2 separate regions of the Homo sapiens genome follow, and region 2 is linked to region 1. The links come from fine-mapping of genetic effects on gene expression. A gene starts in region 1. The other region holds a variant in brackets. All regions are shown on one strand. Distances are between the middles of the regions.

Region 1 (5,516 bases):
TGAATATGGAAGCATTTTGTAGTTAACAAGGCTAACGTATGTTAACTCAAATAGCTTGCTTTGAAGAAAATTTTCCTTTAAATTATTAATATTAATGAGAAAGTGAGAGCTTGGGTGGTCAAGCATGAAATATGAATGAGTAGTTTTCGTTTTTAGGCCTTATTATCCGATGTCACCTGATGTTCAAATTTAAATTTGATAATGCAGAAAATAACAATACAATTTGCAGTGTCATGAAACAATGCAGCTTGTGCCCCAGATTTTTCGACAGCAGTACTGAAACTATGATTTTTAAGTGACATTTTCAAAAGACAAGGTCAGTGAAAAACGCTATACATTTTTTATTGGGTAGAGTCAGAAAAAGAGCTTGCCTGTCCTTTAACTATTTTTTTATTTTTTTTTCGACAGGGACTTGCTTTGTCACCCAGGCTGGAGTGCAGTGGCACAAACACGGCTCACTGCAGCCTCGACGTTCTGGGCTCAAGCGATCCTCTTGAGTACAGGCACGCAAGTCACCATCCCTGGCTAATTTTTGTAGAGACATGTTTCGCCATGCTTCCCAGGCTGGTCTGGAACTCCTCAGCTCAAGCTATCCTCCTGCCGCGGCATCCTGAAGTGTTGGGATGATAGGCATGAGCCACTGCAACCGGCCACTAATCATATATATATATGATTCTTCTTGAGACAGAGTCTCGCTCTGTTGCCCAGGTTGGAGTGCAATGGCACGATCTCGGCTCACTGCAACCTCTGCCTCCCGGGTTCAACTGATTCTCCTGCCTCAGCCTCCCGAGTAGCTGGGACTACAGGCGCCCGCCACCATGGCCAGCTAATTTTTGTATTTTTTTTAAGTAGAGACGAGGTTTCACCATGTTAACCAGGCTGGTCTTGAACTTGTGACTTCCGGTGATCCACCTGCCTCAGCCTCCTAAAGTATTAGGATTACAGGCGTGAGCCACTGCACCCGGCCCACTAATCATATTTTTAAAATAAAAACTTAAGTGAGAGGTTGTTAGAGCAAAGCAGAAACAAACCTAGTCCTCCTTAAATGGATGCAGAGCAACCAGTGAAGTCCTAACAAGCCAAGTAACACAGGAAACTTTTTACTACTTTTACTTTCTTATTAAGATGATTTTTTTTAAAGCAGAAAAAGACTTTAAAACCTTTTTTCGCTTTCCAGATCTAATAAGCCCCCCAATGGTAACCATTTCCTATTCCCAGGCAGCTAGTGAGAAACGCAAGGTACAACTACAATCACGGACTCAGGAAAATCAAGGTGGACACCAGGCGTGGGCTTCTCCCATTCTACCAACAGAAAGAGAGAAATTCAAAGAAAGAGCAATGAAAAATGCACAAGTTTTAGCCACATATTAACTGTAACTACCTCCTTAAATGCGACTGATCTAATTAGAAGCTTTTCAGCTTGTTAGTGGCCCATTTTTTCCTTTTTTTGGACAAAGAAGGGAGGAGAGGGGAGGGGAGGGAAATGGAGGCAGTGGGGTGGTGGGGGGGAGGGGCGGGAGAGAGAGACAGAGAGAGAGAGAGAGAGAGAGAGAGAGAGAGAGAGATGCCTCAGGGTGTCACAAATTTGTTTTTAAAAAATGAATTAATGGCCGGACGCGGTGGCTCACGCCCGTAATCCCAGCACATTGGGAGGCCGAGGCCGGTGGATCACCTGAGATCGGGAGTTCAAGACCAGCCTGGCCAACATGGCGAAAACCCCGTCTCTACTAAAAATACAAAAATTAGCTGGGCATGGTGGCGGGCGCCTGTAATCCAAGCTACTCAGGAGGCTGAGGCAGGAGAATCGCTTGAACCTGGGAGGCGGAGGTTGCAGTGAGCCAAGATCCTGCCACTGCACTACAGCCTGGGTGACAAAGCAAGACTCTGTCTCAAAAAAAAAAAAAAAAACAAAAAAAAACAATTAATGCCCTCGGGTAAACTATGACGTTTGTGCTAACTTTTCAGATGTCCCAAGATTTGGGTTGTTTTACAAGGATAACGAAGTTCATGATGAGGTTAAGCAATCACTGAAGCTAGTGCTAGAAATTTTTTTTAATTTAATTTTTTAGAAAGAGGGGTCTTGCAGAATTTTTTATTTAATTTTTTAGAAAGAGGAGTCTCGCTATGTTGCTCAGGTTGGTCTCCAACTACTGGGCTCAAGTGATCCTCACGAGTAGCTAGGGCTACAGGCACAGGACACTATGCCAGGCTTAGTGCTACAATATTCTGTCTATTTTACTTTAAAATATTCTAAGTATGCTCACTTTGGAAGGCATCAACATCCAGAAATGCATTCCTACATCAAGACTCTCAAGAAACGGGAATTACTGTAAGGGCATACCCTTGAGCAACCATCACACTGCACTGAACTCTTGAGAATATTCTGGAATATCCTGGAAGCATCTCTGCAGGGCAGAGAAGTGAACTGCCACAGAAGGAGCAGCTTTGGGGAGAAGAAATACAGTTTGCCTCTTACAGTATTTTTCTACACCGAGAGCTACATTCCTCCCGAGTTTTAAATTTGTGGACCGTTGAATATCACTCCGCCTTTCATAAAGTTACAAATACCTTCCGTCGGTGGCGGGAACAGAGTTTGGAAAATTACATGCCTAAGACTTCAGATAAGCTAAATGACATACATGCAATAGCATCCCATGAAGAATTTATTCAACCCAATCCATTGCATCTAATTACCCAAAGCACAGAAACTCTCCAAACTGTGCACCCCCCAAAAGGAGGGAAAATGCAAGGTTCCTGCTGCAGTTCCCGGGACACACTGCGAGCCGCTTTGTTACAAGTGTATCCAATGTCCCCAGAACGAGGGACTTGTGGGGCGCGGCTCATCCCAGCGCCACTTGCTCTGCAGCTCCCAGAGGTGGTGGTTGTGTTACGAAGGCTGACCCTGCCAATGGCCGACAAAATGGTGCGCACCCCCAAGTGCTCGAGATGCAGGAACCATGGCTTCCTGGTGCCCGTCAAGGGACACGCGGGCAAATGCCGCTGGAAGCAGTGCCTCTGCGAGAAGTGCTACCTGATCTCCGAGCGCCAGAAGATCATGGCCGCGCAGAAGGTGCTCAAGACGCAGGCCGCCGAGGAGGAGCAGGAGGCGGCCCTGTGTGCGCAGGGGCCCAAGCAGGCCTCCGGGGCTGCGGCCGCCGCCCCCGCCCCCGTCCCCGTCCCGGCCGCGAGCCTCCGCCCGCTGTCCCCGGGGACTCCCTCCGGAGACGCCGACCCGGGACCCGAGGGCCGCGCGGCCGCTTGCTTCTTCGAGCAGCCCCCGCGGGGCCGGAACCCCGGCCCGAGAGCCCTCCAGCCGGTTCTGGGCGGCCGCAGCCACGTGGAGCCGAGCGAGCGAGCCGCCGTGGCGATGCCCAGCCTTGCGGGACCCCCTTTTGGGGCGGAGGCCGCAGGCAGTGGCTACCCTGGCCCCCTAGACCTGCGCAGGCCGATGCGGACCGTGCCCGGCCCACTGTTCACCGACTTTGGTAAGTCGTGGCCTTGGTCCCGCGGTCGACTCCCGGAGCTGGCAGCCCAGGCCAGCCCGGATGGGGAGCTGGCATAGGGGTTCGGGGTGGAGAGAAGTTTTTCCACGGGTAACGGACCTTCCGCTTTGAGAAACCCTTCTTCGAACAGGGATTTGGATTGGGTAACTTTTCGCAAAAAGGAAACGAGAAACAGAAAGGAATGGGCGGTTCAGAGGGCTTTTAACATTTAGCTGTAGTTTGTGCCATTCCGGCATGCAAGAACAAAATGGCGTCCAGTCGACTTAGCAGTGCTTCCTCCTCCGGGGGAGGCTTCGAGGAGCCGAGTCCTACTGCTCTTGCGCACCTCTTCCCGCCATTTCCTTGGGCTGGAGGCTCCTCCTCCAGAATAACAGAATTTTCCTGCCGGCACGTTAGCGCAAGGACGCCTGCGCACTCTTCCCTCCCGGTTCGCGGTCGGGAGGCTCCTCCCCTCAGCTCCGCCCTGGCCCAGTGCGCCTGCGCACCTCTTCCCTCCGTTTCCCCACGTGCAGGTGAGGGGAGCCTGCTTCTTTACTCCACACACGAGAACAGTTGGTCAGTAAAGATGTTGCCTTTCTTTTCTCCCTTCACCTTGTACATAAATTACATTGTTCCCTGTGCCTTGGAGCTTTTGGTATTGAAGTAGTTTCAAGTCACATGTACATTTGAAGCTTTAGAAGCCCCGGGGTTTGGTGCGGACGCGTTTTCCTGGTGTCTCCCCCGTGGTGGTGTGGTGGGACGGGCTCAGGCCGAGGCGGGGGCCCGGGTCACGCTGGACAAGCTCCTGCCCTCTGTGTGCCAGGGCACTGGTCCGGAGGCTCCCGCAGGCTCGTCCCGCCCCCCTGACTTTCCAGGAAAATCTAGGTCCCCAGGGAACGTCCCATCTGACAGGGTCACAGGCCTGAAACTGCAGATCTAGGAGAAGCCACCTTTCTTTTTTCCATCTCAACAGACAAGCAGGGCTGAGCCGAACCATGAGCCAGGCATTCGTGATGGAGGACGCGGGTCACATTTCTTGCCCTCAAGGACCTTGTCCTTGTGGGAGGGACAGGGTTGATCAAAGAGTCACACAAATCAGTGTCCAGGGCTTGAGCCATGGCCGGGTTCACTGTGACCCGGAGGAGGAGGAGGAGCTCGGCACTGAGGCCTCAGAGAGGCAGAGTGCGGGCTGACGGTGTGTGGGGCAGCGGGGAGGTCTGGAGGCGGCCCCGGCCCACAGCGGGCTTGATGGCCGTGCTGAGGACTTTCCAAGAGCAGTGGGGCTGGCTGGAGGATGGAGATGCAGTGAGGGCCCAGCGGAAGGAAGTGCGGGGTGGGCTTTCTGTGCTTGGACGGCAGCGCTGATGACCCCGCCGCCCTGGGCCGCCCTGCGGATGCTTTTCCCAGCGGTGTCTAACACTTCCCTCCTTGCTTGCGTTCTTTAGTGCGCCCTCTGAACATCAACCCGGACCGTGCACTGGGCCCTGAGTACCCTGGTGGCTCCAGCATGCACCCCTACTGCCCGTTCCCGCTGGGCTACCTGGACGCCCCTCCTGGCGTCCCCCTGCAGCAGGGCTTCCGGCATGTGTCCCGCAGCCAGTACCAAGGCGGAGGCTTGGTGAGTCCCACCCCTCACTTCTTGCCAGCTTCCTCCACCCAGTCTGCCCCTGCTGCCTTGATGGATCCTCAGTCCCAGGAAGCCAGCTGTCATAAACTGTGCCCACGCCATGCCAGCCCCCGAGTGCTGGTGGAGGACTAGGCACTGCCCAGGCACAGTGTGTGTGTCTCTGGGAGCACACGTGTGGACCAGTCTGCACCACTCGGCTTGGGCTATGGCCTGTGCTTTTCAGGGCAGTGGGCTGAAAGGCTCTGAGCGTTCAGGATGACCCCTTCCTTGACTGATGCTGATGCTAGAAGGGCCCTTCATTTTGCTGGACTCCAGAAAGGGCATATCACCTTCCTGGGACCACAAAATTTAGGGCAGAGCCAGGACCAGAGGTAGGCTCCCTGCCCACAGGTATAGCACACTTGAGA
Region 2 (5,000 bases), 150 kb before region 1:
TCAACCTTGCAGGCTCAAGCCATCCTCACACCCCAGCTTCCCAAGTAGCTGGGACTGCAGGCGTGCACCACCACACCCAGCTAATTTTTTTTTTTTTTTGGATTTTTGTTGTAGAGACAGTTTCATCATGCTGCCCAGGCGGCCTAGAGCCGTACTACAGCAGGTGATCCAGAGTCAGGGCCTGGGAACAACCTGTATGATTATAGGTGAGTGACTTAACCTCTCAGAGCCTCAGCTTCCTCAACAATAAAATGGGGCTAACCACCTCAGAGGGTGGGAATTAAGAGAGGTTGTAATGTTGAAATTCATGGTGAAATTGCACATCACCACAAAAGCAGGTAGAGCTCTTGTCAATCATGCGGCTTATTTCTTACCACCACCACTCCCCCACTGCTCCAGCTTTCCTACAGGGACTTTGGGGAGAGCTGGGTTGCCTCCCCGTTCGAATGGGAGAGGGCCGGGGGCAGACAGGCAAGGGGCATGGCTTAGCTGGAAAAGCATCTGGGTCCAGTGAGGTGGTGGGGAGCAGCCAGTCCTCACAGGGCCTGTGGGAGGCTCTGGTGGAGCCAAGGGGGCTGCAGGCTGAACACACCTGGGCCCCAGGGCCATGTGGCCCAGCCCTTGGATTTCATACATGAGAAAAGGGGCCACAGCAGCCTCGCGCTCCCATGGCAACCTCAGCAAAGCAATTGCACTCCTCCCAAGACCCAGTCAGGAACAAAACTGCCGCTGAAGAGACTGGAGGAATCATAAGATAGTCTTCGAATCACAGAACAGAATCTCCCTGTCTCAGGATCTGAGAATCGTAAAACACACAATTTACAAGTACTTAGGCTCATTCCGTTGAACGTTAGGACCAAGGAGCCACAGAATCTTTCCAGTTTTAAATCACAAATCTTAGACTCACAAACAGAACAAAACCCTAGAAGCTTCTAATCTAATCCAGGCACCAGGAGTGGCAAAGGCCTGCCCCTTTCCCCCAACCCCCACCAGTGCTGGAATCCTCTGTTCCCACCGCTGACATATGGCCATTCGCCCTCTTGAATGCTCTCAGCGACAGGGGACTCAGTCAGCCGTGCTGGCTGGAGGCTGAACACGTTCCTTCCTCTTGAACGGGGAGGGAAATAAGCTCTCAACAGGAGATCCCCACTTTGTACAAATGGATTTTTCACCCCTCCTTGTTCTTTGGCTCGGTCAGAAAGACTCCCAGGGAAGTGGAAAGGAGCCAAGAGCTGCCATGAAATGACTTTACCCAGCAGACAGGCTGGTGATAGGTTTCGGTGGGAAAAAGAAAGGAAAGGGGCGATGAATTCCAACTTGCTGAGCGATAAAGGAAATTAAGGCATAATACCGAGGAGGCAGCAGTTCTATTAACCTGGGTGGAATACCAATTACTCCAGCCTTCTCAACATTGCTCCAAGTGAAGAGAAAACCCCCAAAGAGAGTGTGATTGTGGCCCAGGGCTCATCTGGATTAGACTGTTTGTTTGCCCTGGCACCCTAATGATGGGAATGAGGGAAAATTCCCCGTTTCCTGGGAGACAGCCATGCCAAAGTGGGGGAGGAAAGGCAGGCCCACGCGCAGCCACTGGACTGCTTGGCAAATGCTCAGGGCAGAGGGGGTCCCCAGGCCCACTGCAGAAAGGCTCAGTGAGGGGCCACCAGCAGCCTCCCCTCACCTGGCCCTGTCCAGGACACCTCCTCTGGTCCCATGTTCTGGGAAGGCCAAGCTTCTGCTGACTCCTATGCTACCGGGAAAGTCTCAGGTCTCTGCTGCTGGAAGCCAAAATAATCAAGCAGCAGGCCAACTGTGCGTGAGGGACCCTGCTAGATGCTGGCACGCCCTGCAGTTAGGTAAGACCTTCGGAGGTGGCCATGTCTCCAGGTGTTGGTTCTGGCAGGGCCGGGGTTCAGGGCTCTGGCCGGGACCACCCACCCATCTGAGGCCAGCCCCAGGGCCAGCAGTATGGGGATGGTTCATGGCCACAAGCCCCAGCTCAGCACCTCCAACCAGAGCTGGGCAGAAGGGGACAGACATGGCTGTGGGAGGCAAGAAGAGGAAAGGTGTGGGGTCATGTGCCCAGCAAACCCTCACCGCCCACTGGCATCCTGGCCCAGACCTCAGCCACACCGGCCACTTCTCAGAGCCCCTTACAGAGGGGTGCCCATCAGCCTAGGGGTTCTGAGCCAGCATGGCTCCCCCAGTAAGACAGGTCCCACTACAGCTTGAAGAGGAAGCCACTTTTAAACAGCCTGCCCAGTGAGCACTGCTGGCTGCCTGAAGATGATTCCACTCACCTTGGTTTTTCCTGCAAGTGAACCTTCCTCCCAGAACTAAGGTTTGGAAGATCCCAGTCTGCTGCCTGACATGGCCATTCTCCCACAAAAACAGGTGAAGGAACGCAGGACTCAAATCACGCCTTTGTCCCTTACTAGCTAAGCGACCTCAGGCAGGCTACCTGACCGCTCTGAGCCCATGTTTCCTCATTTAAAAATGTGGTGGTAGATCCTGACTCGGAGGGCAGTTGGTTGCTAGATCACGTCTATCAGTGCCCGACATAAGGGATGGCACACAGAAAATATTCAGTGACCGAAGTTCCTCCTCCCTTTATCCCAGCCGCTGTGGCAGCCCCACCACCAGGCTTTGTACACAGTGAGTCCTTAAGAGGTTTTTGTTGCAATTTTTAAAGGGCATCTGGAGGCCTAGCCTCTGTCATCCTGGGCCACCTGGTTCTTCTGTGACTTGTTTTCTCCATGTATAAAGTAGAAGGCCTGTTCCTTGGAGAAAAAGGTCAAGGCGGGTGGAATTATTACCTGGCAGCCAGCGGGGCTCACAGTGCAGGCTACTTCAGAAGCCTCGTCCCTGGCTAACACCACAATGGTTATAACGCCAAGCGGGGCAGCTGAGACTGGCCCACCTGGACACACAGGCAATGAGTGGAGGTCACAGGAGGTCTGGCCACCAGCTTCCCTGCACCTCCACCCCTGCCCCCACACTAGTCTCTCCTCAGCCCCACAGGGAGCCAGGGGCCTCTAGAATGGCCTCTCCTCCACCCACGTGCATGGGCCCTGGCACAGGAGAGGCGCTGAGGAGGAAGCTGGAAGGCACCCAGCCACCCA[C/T]TCCAGGGTGAACGGTGAGCCTGCCCAAGCATGAGCTCTTATGAGGCCCAGACTGCCAGGGGGCCAGGGTGTCTGAGGCGCACACATTCCTCACTCTCTGGGAGTTGGGAGTGGAGGACCCTCCTCCCCTTCTCTATTCTATTGGGAAGCTTTCCACGACCCCATGTGGGATCAGAGACCTCTTCTGATCCACAGCCTCATCATCCTGTGTTGGTGGCACTCAACCATCTTTCTCTACCAGACTAGCAGCTCGGTGGAGGCAGGCACTGAGGAAGCGTGTGCTGAAGGCATCGCATGCAGGCAATCTGGAAGCCTGGGGCTTTTCCATCTATACAGAATGTACAGCCCAGGACACAAACCCTATTTACCCTCCAGCATTCTGCATACCTAGGAAAAGCAGTAATCATTGAAGCCTTGCTTCAGATCCTCCATTCATGCAGGAAGTGGGGCTCTGGTCTGTTCTAGTGCTGTCTAGCTGGGTGGCACTCCCACATCCTTTTCTCCAGGCATGTGAACTAGCTCTTGTGTCCTCTTTCTCTTGCCAAAGACAGTGGTATGGTACCAAGGAGAACAGAGCCAGGGGCCAGGAGGCCTGGGTTTTGGTCCCAGCTCTACCCCCCGAGCTGCTGCGTGGCTTTGAGTAAGCCACTCCCCCTCTCTGGGCCTCAGCGTCAACACCAGTTGAGGGGTTGGATCCCACTGCTCCCTGGGTCTGTTCCTGCTTTACTTCACTGCCATGAGCCATGTGTCTGGGGCTGGAGTTGGAGGAGAGTGCTGGCACCAGGCAGATGGTTCTGAGGACAGGTTCAGAGTCTGCAAGGCTGGGAGGGCACCTGCCTCTGTCCTGGGTCCCACCTCCTGGCCTGCTCCTCAGGAAACCCTGGGACACATGAACTTGGGCCTCAGCTTTGGCTCTGATCGTATTGTGATGCCATCTCTGGGCCAGGCCCTCATCTGTCTACATCACCTCACCTCATCTCCTGGTTTACGAAGCCCTTTGTATATGTCTCCTCATTTAGTTCTTACAATCACCCCTGAGGTTCAGAGAGGGACAGGATGGGCCCAGGTCACACAGCAGTCAGAGGACTATCAGGCCCAGCATTCTCCAGCAGCCCTGATATCTCCTCCTTGAAACAGGAAGAACACAGGATGTGCAGTGGGAATCCTGACCTTGCCCCCTGAGCAATACTGAGTAGGGGGGGTGGTACTCTCTCAGAACCACTTTGAGCCACCATGAAAATCTAACAGCATAAAGATGCCAAAAGCATAGGTGCCAGCCAGGGCAGCAGCCCGCTGGAACAGAAAGAGCACCACGCAGGGAGCCCCAGAGCCCAGGCTCCAGTTTTGGGTTTTCCCATCTGTCAAATGAGGGCAAGGATGCCTGCCCTGCCTCACCCACTGAAGGCCAGCTGTGCACTTGCCACACTTACCCCGTCCCACCTTCTACACAGCTGTCTGTGCCCACCACCTCAGCCAGGAGGAGTCACGAGCCCCTTCCCTATCTGCACACAGCTCAGCCTGGCTCACTGCACCAAAAAGGCAGGCCTGAGCATGGACCACACACAGAGGTATGTTCAGACAGACGTGCAGACACTCAGGCACATGCACACAGCGCATGTACTTGCAGATGGGCACCCGTGCATACAGCAAGGCACACACCACCCACTTGCACACTCAGGTGTGCGCCACATACTGAACATACTCAGACACGCATGTCATGCTGGACACACACTGCAGCACACAGACCGCATACCCACACATGCACAGTTGGCTTCATATGATGCTCACACACTGCAGACAAATATGCATAGATTTTCTTGCCTCTCCCATGACAGCCAGATGGTGGGATTCTCCCAGAGGGCTGCCATTTAATGCTCTAAT

The links. PIP is the estimated chance that this variant, and not a neighbour inherited with it, causes the effect. A credible set is the group of variants that fine-mapping cannot tell apart.
Region 2: its variant is the best candidate, but not a certain one, in a credible set for the expression of DMRTB1 in thyroid (GTEx, PIP 0.63).

Annotation. Positions count from the first base shown.
Region 1 is chr1:53,456,546-53,462,061 of GRCh38, forward strand. DMRTB1 (DMRT like family B with proline rich C-terminal 1) reads left to right here and starts at 2,854. Exons shown (of 4, transcript NM_033067.3): 1 at 2,854-3,485; 2 at 4,928-5,100. The coding sequence starts at 2,909.
Region 2 is chr1:53,302,773-53,307,772 of GRCh38, forward strand. All of the region lies in intron 2 of LRP8 (LDL receptor related protein 8), which reads right to left. It overlaps LOC105378726 (a long non-coding RNA gene), which reads left to right. Exons shown (of 6, transcript XR_007066090.1): 4 at 115-206. Among named protein-coding and RNA genes, the nearest start is that of LRP8, 23 kb to the right of the region's middle. RefSeq lists an enhancer at 4,995-5,000. The variant C/T (reference allele first, on the strand shown) is at 3,120.